2 linked regions of the Homo sapiens genome follow. The protein of the gene in region 1 purifies or fractionates together with the protein of each later gene. This does not show direct contact. Each region holds a gene or a part of one and is shown in the gene's direction. Other genes may lie near its edges.

The links.
Region 2: the proteins of C16orf54 (region 1) and EFNB1 purify together in Homo sapiens (affinity purification with mass spectrometry; 2 studies listed by BioGRID and IntAct, with this or other methods). This does not show direct contact.

Annotation. Positions count from the first base shown.
Region 1 is NC_000016.10:29,742,294-29,751,391, reverse strand, and holds C16orf54 (transmembrane protein C16orf54), read left to right. Parts: upstream 1-5,401; 5' UTR 5,402-5,481; exon of another isoform or gene 5,482-5,665; coding exon of another isoform or gene 5,666-5,695; intron 5,696-5,768; exon of another isoform or gene 5,769-5,908; coding exon of another isoform or gene 5,909-5,965; intron 5,966-6,006; exon of another isoform or gene 6,007-6,145; intron 6,146-6,440; coding exon 6,441-7,115; 3' UTR 7,116-7,453; coding exon of another isoform or gene 7,454-7,502; 3' UTR 7,503-8,929; downstream 8,930-9,098.
Region 2 is NC_000023.11:68,830,541-68,839,020, forward strand, and holds part of EFNB1 (ephrin-B1 precursor), read left to right. Parts: intron 1-8,076; coding exon 8,077-8,354; intron 8,355-8,480. UniProt on the Homo sapiens protein: Cell surface transmembrane ligand for Eph receptors, a family of receptor tyrosine kinases which are crucial for migration, repulsion and adhesion during neuronal, vascular and epithelial development.

The DNA of each region.
Region 1 (9,098 bases):
ATGCCATCATGCCTGGCTAATTTTTTGATTTTTTGTAGAAATGGGAGTCTTGCTATGTTACCCAGGCTGGTCTCAAACTCTTGCCCTCAAGCAATCCTCCTGCTTCAGTCTCCCAAAATTGTGGGATTACAAACATGAGCCACCTTGCCTGGCCTTAAACTTTTTTTTTTTTTTTTTGAGACAGAGTCTCGCTCTGTTGTCCAGGGTGGAGTGCAGTGGCATGATCACAGCTTACTGCAACCTCTTCCTCCTGGGTTCAAGCAATTCTCCTGCCTCAGCCTCCTGAGTAGCTGGGATTACAGGCATGTGTCACCACGCCCAGCTAATTTTTTTTTTTTTCCCCAGACAGAGTCTTGCCCTGTCACCCAGGCTGGAGTGCAGTGGCATGATCCCGGCCCACTACAACCTCCACCTCCTGGGTTCAAGCGATTCTCCTGCCTCAGCCTCTCAAGTAGCTGGGACTACAGGCACCTGCCACCAAACCCGGCTAATTTTTGTATTTCTAGTAGAGACAGGGTTTCACCATGTTGGCCAAGTTGGTGTCGAACTCCTGACCTCATGATCCGCCTGCTTTGGCCTCCCAAAGTGCTGGAATTACAGGTGTGAGTCACCTCACCCGGCCTTTTTTGGTATGTTTAGTAGAGACGGGGTTTCGCCATGTTGGTCAGGCTGGCCTCAAACTCCCGACCTTAGGTGATCCACCTGTCTTGGCCTCCCAAAGTGCTGGGATTACAGGCATGAACCATTGTGTAGGGCCTAAACTTGTACGTGATGAAAGAATCAAAACAGCCAGTGATATCTTAGTAAGAAAAAACCATGTCTGATCTTTCCAGTTTTTAATAATGTTAACTCTTCTAAAAGTTTGTTTAAAAAGATTGATTAAAAGAGCACATACAAGTTTTCAGGTTTTGTTTATTTTGATTTTTTTTTTTTTTACAATAAATCATTGTTTGATTGTAGGGAAACACACATAACTGCCAGGCACGGTGGTACACACCTGTAATCCCAGCTACTTGGATGGCTGAAGCAGAAGAATATCTTGAACCCGGGAGGCGGAGGTTGCAGTGAGCCAAGATTGCGTCACCGCACTCCAGCCTGGGCAACAGAGACAGACTCCGTCTCAAAAGAAAAAAAGAAATACATAACATAAAATAACATCAAAGTTACTATCATTTTTCTATATTGACCTCTAGAACAGCCAGAAAGAACATCTTAGTTATTTTTAAGCGTGTTGTTCGCTGGCACTAACTTCAGGTTTGATTTTAAGGCTTGTAATCTGGTAAAATTCTAGCCTCCTCAGGTTTCTGCGAGTGTCCTGAGCCTTAGCTTCCCCCTGTAACTGCCAAAGGGGTTCACCTTGCCCGCTGCCTACACATAGCCGATTCATCAAGACAGCAAAATTGCAATAAAGAGTAATTCACACAGAGCCAGCTGTGCAGGAGACCGGAGTTTTTTTTTTTTTTTTTTTTTTTTTTTTGACGGTTTTGCTCTTTTTGCCCAGGCTGGAGTACAATGGTGCCACCTCGGCTCACTGCAACCTCCGCCTCCAGGGTTTAAGTGATTCTCCTGCCTCAGCCTCCTGAGTAGCTGGGATTACAGGCACTTGCCACCACACCTGGCTAATTTTGTATTTTTAGTAGAGACAGTGTTTTCTCCATGTTGGTCACGCTGGTCTCAAACTCCCAACCTAAGGTGATCCACCGGCCTTGGCCTCCCAAATTGCTGAAATTACAGGCGTGAGCCACTGTGTCCAGCCAGGAGTTTTATTATTACTCAAATCAGTCTCCCTGAGCATTCGGGAAACAGAGGGTTTTTTTGTTTGTTTTTGTTTTGTTTTTTTGAGATGGAGTCTTGCTCTGTCGCCCAGGCTTGAGGGCAGTGGCGCAATCTCGGCTCACTGCAAGCTCCGCCTCCCAGGTTCATGCCATTCTCCCGCCTCAGCCTCCCAAGTAGCTGGGAGTAGCTGGGACTAGCTGGGACTACAGGCATCCGCCAACACGCCTAATAAATTTTTTGTATTTTTAGTAGAGATGGGGTTTCACCGTGTTAGCCAGGATGGTCTCGATCTCCTTGTGTCCAGAATTGGCGGGTTCTTGGTCTCACTGACTTCAAGAATGAAGCTGCGGACCCTCACGGTGAGTGTTTCAGTTCTTAAAGGCGGCATGTCCGGAGTTTGTTCCTTCTGATGTTCGGACGTGTTCCGAGTTTCTTCCTTCTGGTGGGTTCGTGGTCTCGCTGGCCTCTGGCGTGAAGCTGCAGACCTTCACGATGTTACAGCTCATAAAGGCAGTGCAGACCCAGGATAAGCAGCAGCAAGATTTATTGGAAAGATCAAAAGAACAAAGCTTCCTATGTGGAAGGGTACGCCGAGTTGCCACTGCTGGCTCTGGCAGCCTGCTTTTATTGCCTTATCTGGCCCCACCCACATCCTGCTGATTGGCCCATTTTACAGAGAGCCAACTGGTCTGTTTTATAGAGAGCTGATTGGTCCATTTTGACAGGGTGCTGATTGGTGTGTTTACAAACCTTGAGCTAGACACAGAGTGCTGATTGGTGTATTTACAATCCCTTAGCTAGACATAAAGGTTCTCCAAGTGCCCACTAGACTCAAGAGCCCAGCTGGCTTCACCTAGTGGACCTAGCACCTGGGCTGCAGGTGGAGCTGCCCACCAATCCTGTGCCTGCACTCCTCAGCCCTTGGGCGGTTGATGGGACCAGGCCCCGCAGAGCAGGGGGCGGTGCAGGAGCCCAGGCAGGGGGACGCTTGGGCATGGCGGGCTGCAGGTCCCAAGCCCTGCCCCGTGGGGAGGCAGCTGAGGCCTGCGAGAATTCAAGTGCACCTGTGGGCTGGCACTGCTGGGGGACCTGGCGCACCCTCTGCAGCTGCTGGTCTGGGTGCTAAGCCCCTCACTGCCTGGGGCCAATGGCGCCAGCCGGCCTCTCTGAGTGCGGGGCCCACCGAGCCCACGCCCACCCGGAACTCATGCTGGCCCTCGAGCGTGGCCCGCAGCCCCAGTTCCCGTCCGCGCCTCTCCCTCCACACCTCTGGCAAGCAGAGGGAGCGGGCTCCCGCCTCGGCCAGCCCAGAGAGGGGCTCCCACAGTGCAGCGGCGGGCTGAAGGGCTCCTCAAGCGCAGGGAGAGTTGGCGTGGAGGCCGAGGAGGCGCCCAGAGTGAGTGAGGGCTGCCAGCACGCTGTCACCTCTCATCCTGACCTTGTGATCTGCCTGTCTGGTCCTCCCAAAGTGCTGGGATCTGGGAGTGCAGATTGGTCAGAGATGAAATCATCAGGAGTCAGAGCTGTCTTCTTGCAGAGTCAGTTCTGGGTGGGGGCCACAAGATCAGATGAGCCAGTTTATTGATCTGGGTGGTGCCAGCTGATCCATCAAGTGCAGGGTCTGCAAAATATCTCAAGCACTGATGTTAGGAGCAGTTTAGGGAGGGTCAGAATCTTGTAGCCTCCAGCTGCATGACTCCTAAACCATAATTTCTAATCCTATGGCTAGTGTTAGTCTAGTCCCCAGGCAAGAAGGTCTGCTTTGGGAAAGGGCTGTTACTGTCTTTGTTTAAACTATAAACTACAAACTAAGTTTCTCCCAAAGTTAGTTCAGCCTACGCCCAGGAATAAACAAAGACAGCTTGGAGGTTAGAAGCAAGGTGGAGTCAGTTAAGTTAGATCTCTTTCTTTGCAAAGGCGGTTTCCCCCGGACTCTCCATCTCCAGCTCCTCCCAGCAGGGCTCAAAACCACCAGGATGGGGCAGTCTGACGGAGACTGTCTTTTCATTCATTTATTTATTTAATTTATTTATTTTGAGACAGAGTCTCGCTCTGTTGCCCAGGCTGGAGTGGAATGGCACGATCTCGGCTCACTGCACCGGGTTCAAGCGATTCTCCTGCCTCAGCCTCCTGAGTAGTTGGGGTCATAGGCGTGCGGCACCACGCCCGGCTAATTTTTGTATTTTTAGTAGAGACGGGGTTTTGCCATGTTGGCCAGGCTGCTCCCAAACTCCTGACCTCAGGTGATCCACCCGCCTCGGTCTCCCAAAGTGCTGGGATTACAGGCATGAGCCACCTCGCCCAGCCCAGGGATTTCTATCTATTCTTCCACCACCCTGGCCACTACATGCTCACCCACACATACATTGGTCATGCGACTTTGGTCATGAAATCTCTTTTCTTTAAGCCTTACTTTTGTCATCTGTGGATGAGTCAAACTAGAGAATCTCAGAAAGTCACCTGGACTCCAGAGCCTGATGACATCTTGTCACACTCTGCTCCAGGCTCCTCCCACCCTCAGCAGCAGGAAAGAGGGACAGACATGAGGATGGTCAGGGTTTTGGAAACAGGCCCACGCCTGTTTTTATACCCTGGACTCCTCTCAGAGGCTTGACATTTTTGTTACCCAAGCCTCACCTCACTGATATTTTCCAACCAAAATGGGGGCTAAATGGTCTGAAGAGAGAGAGACTTATGTTAATTAAAAGTATGAGGCAGGGGCCAGTGTGGTAGCTCACACCTGTAATCCCAGCACTTTGGGAGGCTGAGGCAGGAGGATCTCTTGAGGCCAGGAGCTTGAGACCAGCCTGGGCAACATAGCAAGAGCCCATCTCTACCAGAAAAAAAAAAAAAAGGTGTGAAGCAAGCTGGCCAAGCAGGGGGTGCCTGTGGGGGCTGCATGGCAGGAGCAGATCTGGGGAGGCACCGTGGATAAGACAAGGCAGGATGGGGTGGGGCATCCTCCCAGGAGGAACGGGGGAGGCACCATGGTTCTCTGGGAATGTACGGGCTAAAGTCCCAGTGTCCTATTTCTTTTTCTTTTCTTTTCTTTTCTTTTTTTTTAAGACGGAGTCTCACTCTGTTGCCCAGGCTGGAGTGTGGTGGCACGATCTCAGCTCACTGCAACCTCCGAGTCCCGGGTTCAAGCGATTCTCCCTGCCTCAGCCGCCTGAGCAGCTGAGATTACAAGTGCCCGTCACCATGCCCAGCTAATTTTTGTATTTTTCAGTAGAGATGGGGTTTCGCCATGTTGGCAGGCTGGTCTCGAACTCCTGACCTCAGGTGACTTGCCCACCTTGACCTCCCAAAATGCTGGGATTACAGGGGTGAGCCACTGTGCCTGGCCCCGGCGTCCTCTTTCTCAGCTTTTCGGTGAATGTTCTGGGGCTCAGGGCCTGGCTATGGGGTGACACTAAGTTCAACAGAACCATTGCCCATTCCAGCCCCACCTTACCCCAGGAAAAGCCTCCTCACCGCAGTGACCACATCCCCTTGGGTTGCTTTGGAAACAAACACTCCCCAGGGGCAGACGAGTTGGGGCACAGTTGCCCAGCAACAGGCGGTGCCCTCCCTTCCGCCTTCATCCGAGGCCGGGCCTCTACGTCTGAGAGGCGGACCGCCCTGCACCCTCCAAGCCTGCACCTCTTAGTCCAGCACCAGGAAGAGTGGCTCTAGGAGGGAGAGGAGCCCAGGGACTGACCCAAGGTGAGTTGAGGGGTGCAGGAGGCCCCCTGCAGATGGAGGATGTGGGGGACAGAGAGGTGTGCAGAGACAAACGAGAGATAGAGACAGGCCAGAGCCTGGGCAAAGCTGGGGAGCCCAGGAGGGGTGCAGAGGCGCCTCCGGAGGCCTGGCCCGGCCCGGCCCGGCAGCAGATTCCGTGGAGCCTATGAGAGCAAGATCAAGTCCGAGGAGAATGGTGAGGGGCGAAGGAGCCTCAAGGGGCCAGCGGAGGTGCTGGCGGCAGGCGGTGGGGGAGACACACGCAGGGGAGCCAGTGGGAGGGGAGGTTCTCATTTCTTCACCCACCACTTCCTCTCTAGGTCTGAGCAAGACTTGAGGGGGCCGAGTGGGGAGGAAAGAAGCCCTTGAGACCTTTCTTGTCTGAGGCACCCTGGGGTCTGGGAGGGAAATGGGGATTCTGGAAAGGCCTGGAGAGCCAGGCAGGAGGGCCTGGCTGTGCCCCGAGGTAGGCTGCCTGTCCTCCCACCCCACCTGGCTCACGCTTACCCTTTCTGGTCCCTCTTGCTTCTCTGTCTCTCCAGAATGTTCTTTTTCATTTTTGAGAAAGGGTCTTGCTCTATTGCCCAGGCTGGAGGACAGTGGTGCAATCTGGGGTCACTGCAGCTTCAAACTCCTGGGCTCAAGTAATCCTCCCACCTCAGCTTCCTGTGTAGCTGGGACTACAGGTGTGAGCCACCACACCCAGCTAGTTTTTAAATTATTTTTAGAGATGAGGTTTCACTGTGTGTCCAGGCTGGTCTTGAACTCCTGGGCTCAAGTGATCCTCCCGCCTCGACCTCTCAAAGTGCTGGGATTCCAGGCATGAGCCCCCATGCCCAGCCCTTCTCCCAGGCTTTCCTGGACACCTGCTGCCTCTCTCTCATCTTGGTTGTGCCCCCTCTGCCTCATTTACTTCCTCTTCTCACCCCTGTGTCTCTCAGATGCCGTTGACTCCAGAGCCGCCCTCTGGGCGCGTGGAGGGGCCCCCCGCATGGGAAGCAGCCCCATGGCCCTCACTGCCCTGTGGGCCCTGCATCCCCATCATGCTGGTCCTGGCCACCCTGGCTGCGCTCTTCATCCTCACCACCGCTGTGTTGGCTGAACGCCTGTTCCGCCGTGCTCTCCGCCCAGACCCCAGCCACCGTGCACCCACCCTGGTGTGGCGCCCAGGAGGAGAGCTGTGGATTGAGCCCATGGGCACCGCCCGAGAGCGCTCTGAGGACTGGTATGGCTCTGCGGTCCCCCTGCTGACAGATCGGGCCCCTGAGCCTCCCACCCAGGTGGGCACTTTGGAGGCCCGAGCAACAGCCCCACCTGCCCCCTCAGCCCCAAATTCTGCTCCCAGCAACTTGGGCCCCCAGACCGTACTGGAGGTCCCAGCCCGGAGCACCTTCTGGGGGCCCCAGCCCTGGGAGGGGAGGCCCCCCGCCACAGGCCTGGTGAGCTGGGCTGAACCCGAGCAGAGGCCAGAGGCCAGCGTCCAGTTTGGGAGCCCCCAGGCCAGGAGGCAGCGGCCAGGGAGCCCGGATCCTGAGTGGGGCCTCCAGCCACGGGTCACCTTGGAGCAGATCTCAGCTTTCTGGAAGCGTGAAGGCCGGACCAGTGTGGGGTTCTGAATCCCCAGGGTTCCCCAGAGATCCCCGAGGCAGGCCTTGCCTCAGTGGGACCGGGGACCCCAGGATCCAGCATTAGGATTGAGACTGCCCCAGCGAAGATGCCCTTCCCAGGCTCCTTCCACCTGGAGTCCCCCTCCCCGGGTCTGGGTGGTGGCCAGGCTATGTGGACTAGGGGAAGCCCAGCAGTGCCTCTGCTCAGCTACCTGGGCTGTGGCTCAGAGACCTGGGGGTGGAGCCAATGCCAGGCCAGAAGCCTTCAAGATCGCATCCAGATGAAGAACCCAAGGTACTAGATAGTCAGGAAATGGCATCGACCAGCCACCTCCACCTTCTTTCAGTGTTTACCGAAGCCACCAATACCAAAGAGAACGGGTCCTGCGGTGCTGAACAGCCTCGGTGTGGCGATGACAGCTGGCAGGAGATGACAGGAATCCAGTTTCCCAGAGCCACAAATCCTGTTCTCCTTGGCCACTCACCCACTGTGAGGTCCTCTAGGAAAATACACAAAGAGAGGACCAGACCAGGCAGAGGAACATTTTGTTTCATATGAACTGTGGCTTTGACCCCCAAACTGCAAGGAGGAACTTGCTGGGCCAAGCTGCAGCGGCGCTGTCTTGCTGGAGTGGGGACCTAGAGTCAGAGAAAACCCACAGGCTCCTCTGCCCATTCTCCTCCATCTGCACACGTCTCAGCCTCGGACCCTCACCACTCCATGGTGAGGAAGGCCATGGCCAGGGGAAACTGAGTTTCATCCAATGTGGAGAGGAGCGTTGTCCTAGAGCAGGGCAACTCCCAAACTGTGACCTCTGATCATCGTCCCTTCCAGCTTGCTGGAGTGTCCAGAGAGACAGATTTGCCACAAGCTAGGCTTACTTATAATGCTCCACCCTACAGAAATGGGACCCCAAGTACCCAATCTTCCCTTTAGGAGAGGCAGGCAGGTGGGTGAGCAGCAGATGTAGTTTCCATTTCCCTGGGGGTTTAATTTTCCAAACTTTGTCTTTTTTTTTTTTTTTTTTTTTTTTTTGAGACAGAATCTCAACTCTGTCACCCAGACTGGAGTGCAGTGGCACAATCTCAACTCACTACAGCCTCGAACTCCTAGGCTCAAGCGATCCTCCCACCTCAACCTCTAGAATAGCTGGGACTGCAGGTGCATACCACCACGCCCAGCTAATTTTTGTATTTTTTTTGTAGAGACACGGTCTCACCATACTGCCTGGGCAGGTTTCCAACTCCTGGGCTCAAGTGATCCAGCAGCCTTAGCCTCCCAAAATGCTGGGATTACAGGTATGAGCACTGCACCCGGCCACTTTTTTTTGTTTTTGAAACAGGGTCTCACTCTGTTGCCCAGGCTGGACTACAGTGGCACAATCTCAGCTCACTGCGGCCTTGAACTCCTGGGCTTAAGTGATCCTCCCACCTCAGTCTCCCTAGTAGGTGGAACTACAGGCATGTACCACCACACCTGGCTATTTTTTTTTTTTAGAGACAGGGTCTTGCTATGTTGCCCAGGCTGGTCTTTAATTCCTGGGCTCGAGAGAGCCACTCATCCCCATCTCTCAGAGTGTTGGGATTACAGCCATGAGCCACCATGCCCGGCCAAACTTCAGCCTTGAATATTAGTGATTTTGCCATATTAGTTTACCATCTGTACAATTATTTGCTTTATATTTTTCTTTAAATTGGCTCATTATTCACTTAATGAAATTATTGCAACAGGAATCTTTTGTATCACTTCTGTAAATGGAAAACCAGTCTCATTTGCCATCAATAGAAGGTAAAACATGAAAATAAATACAATGTAAACAAAATTGTTAAGATCTAAATTCTGTTCCCTGCTGGAAGCATTGACCTAAAACTCTGCTCTTTGTTTTTGTTGTTGTTTTTGAGACGGAGTCTCGCTCTGTTGCCCAGGCTGCAGTGTGATGGCGCGATCTCCGCTCACTGCAACCTCCGCCTCTGGGTTTAAGCGATTCTCCT
Region 2 (8,480 bases), on another chromosome or scaffold:
TCACAAAGGCAGCGGGTGGAGAGGGGCGGAGTGGGAGAGTGGTCGTTGGGTAGTGGGGGTTCGAACCAGTGCCCGTCAGGGGTCCAATGGAGCCGGTAACAGAGCTTCAAGGGCCCGCCAGGGCGGAGAGTGGCGGCCGAGCTGTTGAGGGAGGTGGGTGGAGAAGGAGCGATTCCTGCCCAGGCAGGTCCCCTTGGCCCCCGAGTCTGTCCCCCAGATTGGGAAGCTGTGCTTAGTTTTCCCCAAGGGGTTGGGGCGGGGAGTGGGCAGCTATATAAAGGACATCCTTTCTTTTCTTTCTTCTCCTTCCTCTGCACAACTACCCCACCACCACCACACACACAACCCCTCCAAACAACACGCACACCTTTCAGGGCGGTGGCTCAGTGGTTTCTGGGCTTTTAGTGGGAAGTCGCTGGGGCTGTTGTAGTGACCTCTGGACCTTCTCTTTTGGCATCCAGGACTCAGGTTGGAACCAAGGGTCAAAATTGCCCTTCCTCTCAATTTTCTGGAGGTCCCAGCAATGTGCGAACAACCCCACTTAGCAGGAAACTGGGGAGCTTTGACCTGCTCCATCCGTGATCACTGATTCCTGTATCTCAAATTTCTTCCTGTCCACTCTTGCTGCCCCACGCCGCCTCCCCCCCAGCCCCGCCCTGCCCCGGGTAACTTCCCAGGCTCCTGCCTACCTTGGCCTCTTGGGTCCCAGGGACGTTTGATCTCTCAGCCCTGGAGTAGGAGAAGGCAGCTTTAGTTTTCTTCTCCTCGATTAAGGTAGAGTCCTATTACTGGTTGGTGGGATGGCTAAACCAGGGTTGGGGTGGAGGGCTCTCCCTGGGTACAAGGAAAGGGATTGGCAAGAATTTCTTTCCTACCCAGAAGCCAAACGGGGTACAACACTCTCCTAACAGCAGGGGCTCAAAATGCTCTGGGAGCTCTGGGCTGCTTGAGCCCAGGGGGGAACGTTGTGAAGTGCTCAGTGGTTGTGAAGTGCTCAGTGGTTGTGAAGTGCTCAGTTACCCTGGTAAGGGTGGAGGCTGGAAATGTTCTGTCTTGAGCCAGGAGAGTTGAAATCCGCCTGGGGTAGCCCATCATAGGGGCTCATGGGAGTGACCTAATTGCTCTCTCGGGTCTCTAACCAGAGATAGCATGCAGCTCCACAGCTGGAAAGGAGCCCTCCTGCAGAGTTGGGGGTGCTGGAAGAAACACGATCTGTCTGTGCTTCCCCCTTTTTGTGCTCAGAGACTTTAGTGCTCTGGACTGGCTTACAGGTTTTGGGGGGTGGTATCCTCTCTGACCCCCCTCCTCATCTACCTCAAGCTGAGGGCAGGCATTGTGGGGTGAGGATGGGGGGTGGCTGAAGACTCTCTAGAAACTGTCCGAATTCCATTCTGTAATTGGGTAGATCCTGGGAAGGATCAGAGACTGATCCTGGTGCACCCTCCTTCCATCCAGGCTCAGGGGTCTGGAATGCAGCCACTGTCTACATGTGTTGGCTCGGGGTGGTGGGGGCAAATGGACAGGAAGGAGGCACTGCCCTCAGCTCTCCTTGAGCTTTGGGGGCTGCTTCTGCCACCGCGCCCAACCCTCAGGCTGCCACAGCCTTTCAAATAAACAGTCCCTCTCTGTCTCCCTCCCTCTCTGCCTCCTGCCCGAGTTCTCCTCTCAGGCCCGTGTCAGTTCGCCCTCTCATACCCTCCGCGAGCAGCGCTCACTTCCCCTCTCCAGCTAGGCTCGCCTGCTCTGCCTTGCTCTCACACTCCCTCTCACTCTTAGTCACTCTCTGCCTCTTTTTCTCAAGTCCTTTTGTTTCTCGCACATGCCCGTGCTCTCCCTCTCAGGCTCATTTTCTCTCTTCCTTCCCCTCTTCCTCTCCTGGCTTTTGGTCTCTCTCCTCAGCCCTGTCAGAAGCTGGCAACCCCCCTCCCAAAAAAGAAAATCTCCCAGTGCCTATAAACCCTGCTTAATTGCTTCCTTCTTGGGAAAAAAAAAATCAAAATAAAAGAAGTGGTGGGGCTGGGGGTCCGCTTCCAGGTTCCAAGGTGCGTGCGGCCCGGCCCCAGCCCTGACTGAGAGGGGAAGCGGGAATGGCTGGCCCAAGACTCCCAAGCCTCTTTCCCAAATTGGTGCTGGGGCCTTCTGGGATGCTAGTCCCTGAGTGGCAGGAGCTTCTGCCTCCTTGGCCCCTCCTGTCAGATTTGCCCCATGAGCGCAAGGTGGGGGGATGGGTTTGGTCCTGCTAGAGTTTTTTTTAGGAACCTCTGTGTGTGCGTGTGTGTGTGTGTGTGTGTGTGTGTGTGTCTGAGTTGGGGGGCTGTTATCTAAATGGTCCTAGGCGACCCCTCCCGCAGCCTCTTCCCCTGGGAACTTGGGGCAGCCGGCAGGCCTCACACTTGAGTCCTCAGCCAAGTCCAGCTGCTGCAGTTCAGTCTCTCAGTCCCGTCCTGACCCCTTCCTGCCCCCCACTCAGGTTCCCCCACCTCCAGGGAGTCAGAATGTGCCTGAGATCACATTACAAACATTCCCTACAAGGGGGTGGGGGTGGGGGGGTTCAGCTTGGCATCCAGGACCCTTGACTCCAGCATGGGTGGGGGCAGCTGCAGACCCCAACCCATGCTTGCCTGCTCCAAGCCAAAGTGTTGGCCCCAGCCCCACACAGCTGTTCTAGCTCACAGTCCTGGGGAGGCCAGCTCAGGGGGCCCTTTTCCGGGGTGGTTAGGGACCTGACCTCTTCTACTTTGTGGCTGATTGGCCACAGGTGGGAGCCTGAGAGTGATGGGAATCCAGCAGCTCCTAAAGTCCCCTGTTCCCCTGCCTCCCCTCTCCCACATAGGGCAGCCAGGCAAGGGCAAGAAGGACCTGTGAGGCTGGGGTGGGGACTGAATCAAGGGTTCCCTTTCTTCCCTTGGGCTCTCTGTTGTCTCATCCGCTCAGGTGAATGGGGATGCGTGGGCCCTGGATACTATGGTGCATCACTGTTTTCTGGGGTTAGGGACTAAAGGAGATAGAGTGGGCCAGCCAGGAGGCTGCTAGTTGCCATGGGAACACCAGGTTTGGGGGAGAGTCCACTCTGTGACTATTAGAGGAGCTGAGATACGGGGGTGCTCACCAGCCACATTCTGGGTTCCTTACCCCGCAGACCATAGCAGCCCCTCTTGGGCGTGTTTCACGATCATTGTTTTGGGTCAGGGTGCTAGCAGCCAGGAATGTAAGCTCCTTCAGCTTTTTACTTCTAAATAATGCTGTGTTTGGCATGCTAACTAATAGGCAGGCGGCACCTTGCTACTTACAATGCATTCTCATATATGATCTCATCGAATGCTCCCAACAACCCTGGGAAGTAGGTATTGGTCCCATTTTCCAGATAAGAAGGCATATGCCCGGACAAGGGAAGTGACTTGTCTAAGGCCAGTCAATGACTTGCCTATGGGGGCAGAGCTGTGTTGTGTGCCATTCATTCCTGCTGCCTTGAAATGTAGGAGAGACAGGAATTCAAGGTGGGGTTTGGGAAGAGGCCCTGGCTCCCTGCCCCTGAGTTCCCCTCTTACCTCGCAGGTGTGCAAGCATCTGTCCCTGTGACTCAGGCCCTGTCTGTGTGGGGTGAGCAGTGCTCCAACTTCCTCATTTGACTTTTCTAGGCCTACCTTCCAGGGCTGACTGCTTGGGTGACCTGAACTAAAGGCAGCCAACTCACTGCCTGGCACACTCCCTGCGGAGCTCTGAGTGGCACCTTTGGTTCCTCTCTGAGCTAAGAATCTCTCTTCTCAGGGACCCCACAGAAAGCAGACATCGACATCGAGGAGGGGGGGTATTAAATTCATAATGGACACGAGCCTTAGCCAGGTGGGGCAGAGGGAAGGGCATAGTTCAGTGTAGATGGGGAGGGTGACTTCCTCCAGGACTCTCCTGGCTTCCCTGCCTCTGACAGAGCTGTGTGTGCCAGGACCCAGCTGCTGTTCCTGCCCACCCACGCCTGGGCGGGCACTGCTGGGACATGCCAGGCCTGCTCCTGCCAGCCTCGGGGGCTGGGTGGAGCTGGGGGAGTTAAAGAGGAGCCTTTAATTTGGGGGCTCCCCACCCTAGCTGGGATGAGAACAGACTTGAGCTCTGGCTTGGGGTCTGTCCTCCATTGGTCTTGCCACCCTGGGAGGTGCAGGTGCAGTGGTCGTGGGGTCACTGAATCGAGGTTGAGGCTAGAGGCTTCTACCAGACTTGGGCTTGCATGGCCTAGAACCAGGCTCCCCCTTTGGTCATTCTCTGACCACAAGTTGCTAGAGCCTGAGAGCAGGGTGACAGGGAAAGAAGTATAGACCTGGTGGGATGTGGGCAGCTTTCTGGGCAAGACCCTCCTAGCTGCAAGCTCTCCCTGCCCCCTGTAAATTGTATTCACATGGGTGGAGAAGGGCTTATCCGGAGAAAACAAGGAGGGGGCTGTTGGTTAGTTGGTTTCTGGCCAGTCCAGGGCCTTGGAGGCTACTGTCCCCAACCCCTTCAGGCTTTTCATATCCCAGGATTCTTTGTGGCAGTGATGGCATCGTGGTGCTTCTAAGCTAGGTAGAAAGGCTGAAGGTAGAACTTGGGTTAGGGTAGAGGGGGAAGAGCTGGAATAGCTTAGGCCGCCTCCCCCAAGTCCTTTTACTCCCTGGGGTGGCGCCCTGGGGTCCCAGGGCTATCTGAGGCTGGAGAGGGAAGGCCTCAGGGGTTACCATGGTGACCTGCTTCAGGCTTCCTGCTGAGCCATGTCAATCCCTTTATTTTTCAGAAAAGGGCTTTGTCTGGGGGTGGCCCCAGACAGAAAAGCTTGGCTTGGTCCTAGGGTGGGGGGAAGTAAGGTGGAGGATAAAGAGTTTCACTTCGGGATATCTCTTCCTCCTCTTCCCTTACTCCTACTCCTAATCTGGTAAGAGGGGAGAACTGTAGGGTCCCCCTTTAAAGTATGACTAGTGTTCTACCTAGCTTTGGCCTTCACTCTCACTGGCTATACACCCATCCCTTATGGCCCGTTACCACTCTCTTGAGCTTCTGACAGGTCAAGACGAGGTTTGCCCAGTGGTCGGGAAGATGCTAAGGTTACCAGTATGGGGGATCAGGGTCAGGGAAGGCGGGTCTCATCAGGCTCCGCTCCCTTCTGCACTTCAGGGGAAGGTGAGTTTCCCTCTGCCAGCTGCCATGCAAATGAACTAATGAATATTTATGAAGTCTGTTCACTGAGGTTGAAGAGACTCTGAGGGGTTTTGGGGGCAATAGTTCTCTCTTCTCCCCCCTCCTCCATCATGTAGACATCTGTTTCCTCAATGCCTCTGGCTTCAAGGTAGAACCCCAATTAGCTAGAAGCCCTGTTCCAATTCCAGGGCTCTGGAACCTGGGTGGCAATGGGAGACTGCACTTGGGGTAGACAGGACTCCCTGGTGAGTAAGCCAGAACCGAGTGGTTAGAAAGCTGAGCTGGCCTGTCTCCCTTTCCGTGCCCTCTATGTAGCTGCATATATATGTGTTGTTAAGATGCAACAGTACAAGGATTCAGGTAATGTTTTAGGGCCTCTTAGACCCATCGGGTTATTGTCCTGGGTAGGTTTAGACCCCTCTTTTCAATGGGAACATTCATCTGATCATTCATTCCCTCACATGAAGGGCCTGGACTCTAAGGTTCCTGCTGGCTCTAAGATGTGAGCAGTTGTCTAATCCTGCCATCTGGATGGAACCGTTGTGAGCACTGGAAAGGGAAAAAATGCCTGGAGAATTCTAGAGGCTTTGGGGAAACTTGTTGGCTTTGTATGGTGCATGGGACAGGGGTATTCCATCTGAAATGTTTATCCAGGCTTCCATCCCATGCCTACTTCCTTTCTGGGCCCTCTATAGTTAGGTACCAGTGGGGAGGCCATCTCATTCTGGCTTTTACCCTCCTGCACATCAAGATGGCAGCTCCCAATTTGGTGGAGCCTCACTCGACATGGAGGAAAGGCTGCTTTTCTTCGTCCACTTCATCCATGTGGTCAGTTTCCCTCTTCGCCTACTTGGGTATCATTTCCCTCCCTCAGATGAGGACACAGGTTTGGCATTGCAAAGGCATTTGCCCAGAGTTCCCAGTAGGCCGGTATTGCTTGTAGTACCTTTGGTGTAATGGGCCCTCAGGAAATGGAACCACTCTTTTCTCAGATGATTGTGGTAGCCTGTGAACTGGTGCATGACACTGTCAGCTTCATTCTCTTTAAGCACTGCCTGAAGCCTTCCATTGTCCTTCCTGCTCTGAGAGCCTGTCTCCAATGGGATGAAACCCACCCTGCTTGCTGTGACCCTTGAAGCCTTTCAGTCTGGCCCCAGGTGAACTTTTCACCTCTTCTTCTGTTTCTCTCTTCTCACTCCCAGCCAAGCTGGACCAATCACTGGCCTGGGCTTTGTGTTGTAGCCACTGCTGTCTACTGTCTCAGTGTGTTGACTTCTTATTCCTCACCTAAGACCCACTTTCATCCTGCCTTTCCTGTGGATACATCTCTGACCATCCTGGTCAGATGAGCTATCTCTTTCTTCTCCCTGCCTCCAGCCCTTGCTGCTTGAATCATCATCCTCACACATACCTACAGATAGCCTGGTGTTGTCTATCACTCGAGTATGGGTTATTTACTTTTCTGACCCAAACTGGACAGTAAAGTCCTTGACGATGGAGCCATATCTTCTCTTCCTGTTTCCCCTCCAAAATATGAGAGTGAGCTCATAGGTACTTAGTGTTAGTATCTGACCTCCTGCCTCTTGGGAGACTGCTTCTAAGAGGCAGTCAAACATGTTGAACGCCTATTGTGTGCTAGGTGTTCTCCATGTGCTGCCTTGTCTCCCCACCACAATATTGGAAGGTAGGGGCTCTTGCCACCCCCACTTTACAAGAGAAGAAACTGAAGCTCAGAACAGGCAGCTCATCCAAGGTCACAGAGTTAGTAAGGGCCTAGCTTTGGAATCTGATTCTAAAGTCTGTGTTCTTTCTCCTACATGGTTCTGCCTTGCTCTCAGCACCAGCCCATCCAGTCTCAGAAATGGCCAATGGAGCACCATTTTCTTTCTGTGTGCTTAGGCAAGGACAGAGTCCTATGGATAGGTGGTCCTGGGCTGCTGACCCTCCCTGCTGTCCCCCAGTGCCTGGCCTTCTGGATTAGAATATGAACCTGGCTCAAAAGGCATTTGTCCATCTCCTCTCAGGAGCTGGAGTAGGAGCAACATAGAGGTGACAGGTTAGGATACAGATGAGGCCCTATCTTCTATGATCTGTTGTCTCTGGTTGAGCCCCTTCTCTTCTCCTCTGTTCTTTTTAAGAATGAGATGAATCAAGTTTAGGAATTCAGGCTCTTGCATTTTGAGGGTGGGATGAATTGCCAGTAGGACAATAGGCAGTGGGAGTGAGCAGAGCTGCACCTGGCCAGAGACTGTGGCCATCATCCCTTTGCTCCAGGCGATGCCTGTTCCTATCTTTCCATCATGACCAAGATTAGTAAGGATGGGGGAGAAGACATGGGTCCCAGACAGATTGAGCTCCCCCAGCCTTTGGCTGGGAGCTGCGGGGAGTGGTGACTAAGACATGTGTGGGCTTGCTGTGTGTGTGTGTATGTGTGTGTGTGTGTGTGTGTGTGTGTGTGTGTGTGTGTGTGCGCGCGCGCGCGCGCACGTGTGTATGGGTATAGGAGAGGTAGTAGCAGCGGTCATGAAGGAATCTTTGTTGGGGGTGGGGGTATATAAGACTGCCACCTCCAGGTAGCATGGGCCTGACACCTTGGTACCCAGCCCATTGGCCACGTCAGCCCCCTGCGGAAATGCCACATTAGGACAAAGGGCTCCCCCAGCCAGGCAGTGCTCCACCCTGCCGAGCAGTCAGAGCCTGGCAGCCTTGCCCATGGGCCACCCCTTCCACACTCTCCTGGTAGTGTGGTTCTCTCTCCCCACCCCCAGCCTGAGGATGGAGGAAGGGCAGAAGGCTTGCTCTTGCCATCTCCACCCAGTAGGCCCAGCCCGGCTCTTGTCCGCTTCCCTGGTTCTGGAATGGCCTGGGGCCACCCCCAACCCTGAGGCTGACCATCTTCTTCCTTCTGGGCAGGTTCCTGAGTGGGAAGGGCTTGGTGATCTATCCGAAAATTGGAGACAAGCTGGACATCATCTGCCCCCGAGCAGAAGCAGGGCGGCCCTATGAGTACTACAAGCTGTACCTGGTGCGGCCTGAGCAGGCAGCTGCCTGTAGCACAGTTCTCGACCCCAACGTGTTGGTCACCTGCAATAGGCCAGAGCAGGAAATACGCTTTACCATCAAGTTCCAGGAGTTCAGCCCCAACTACATGGGCCTGGAGTTCAAGAAGCACCATGATTACTACATTACCTGTGAGTCCCGCCCATCCCATCCTCTGGCTCTCTCCCTGGGCTTAACTCTTTCCTCTCCTGTAGTAGTGGGAGCTTCTAAGTGGTGCAATGCTATTGCATGTAGTTAAGACCCTGCTGGATCTGATC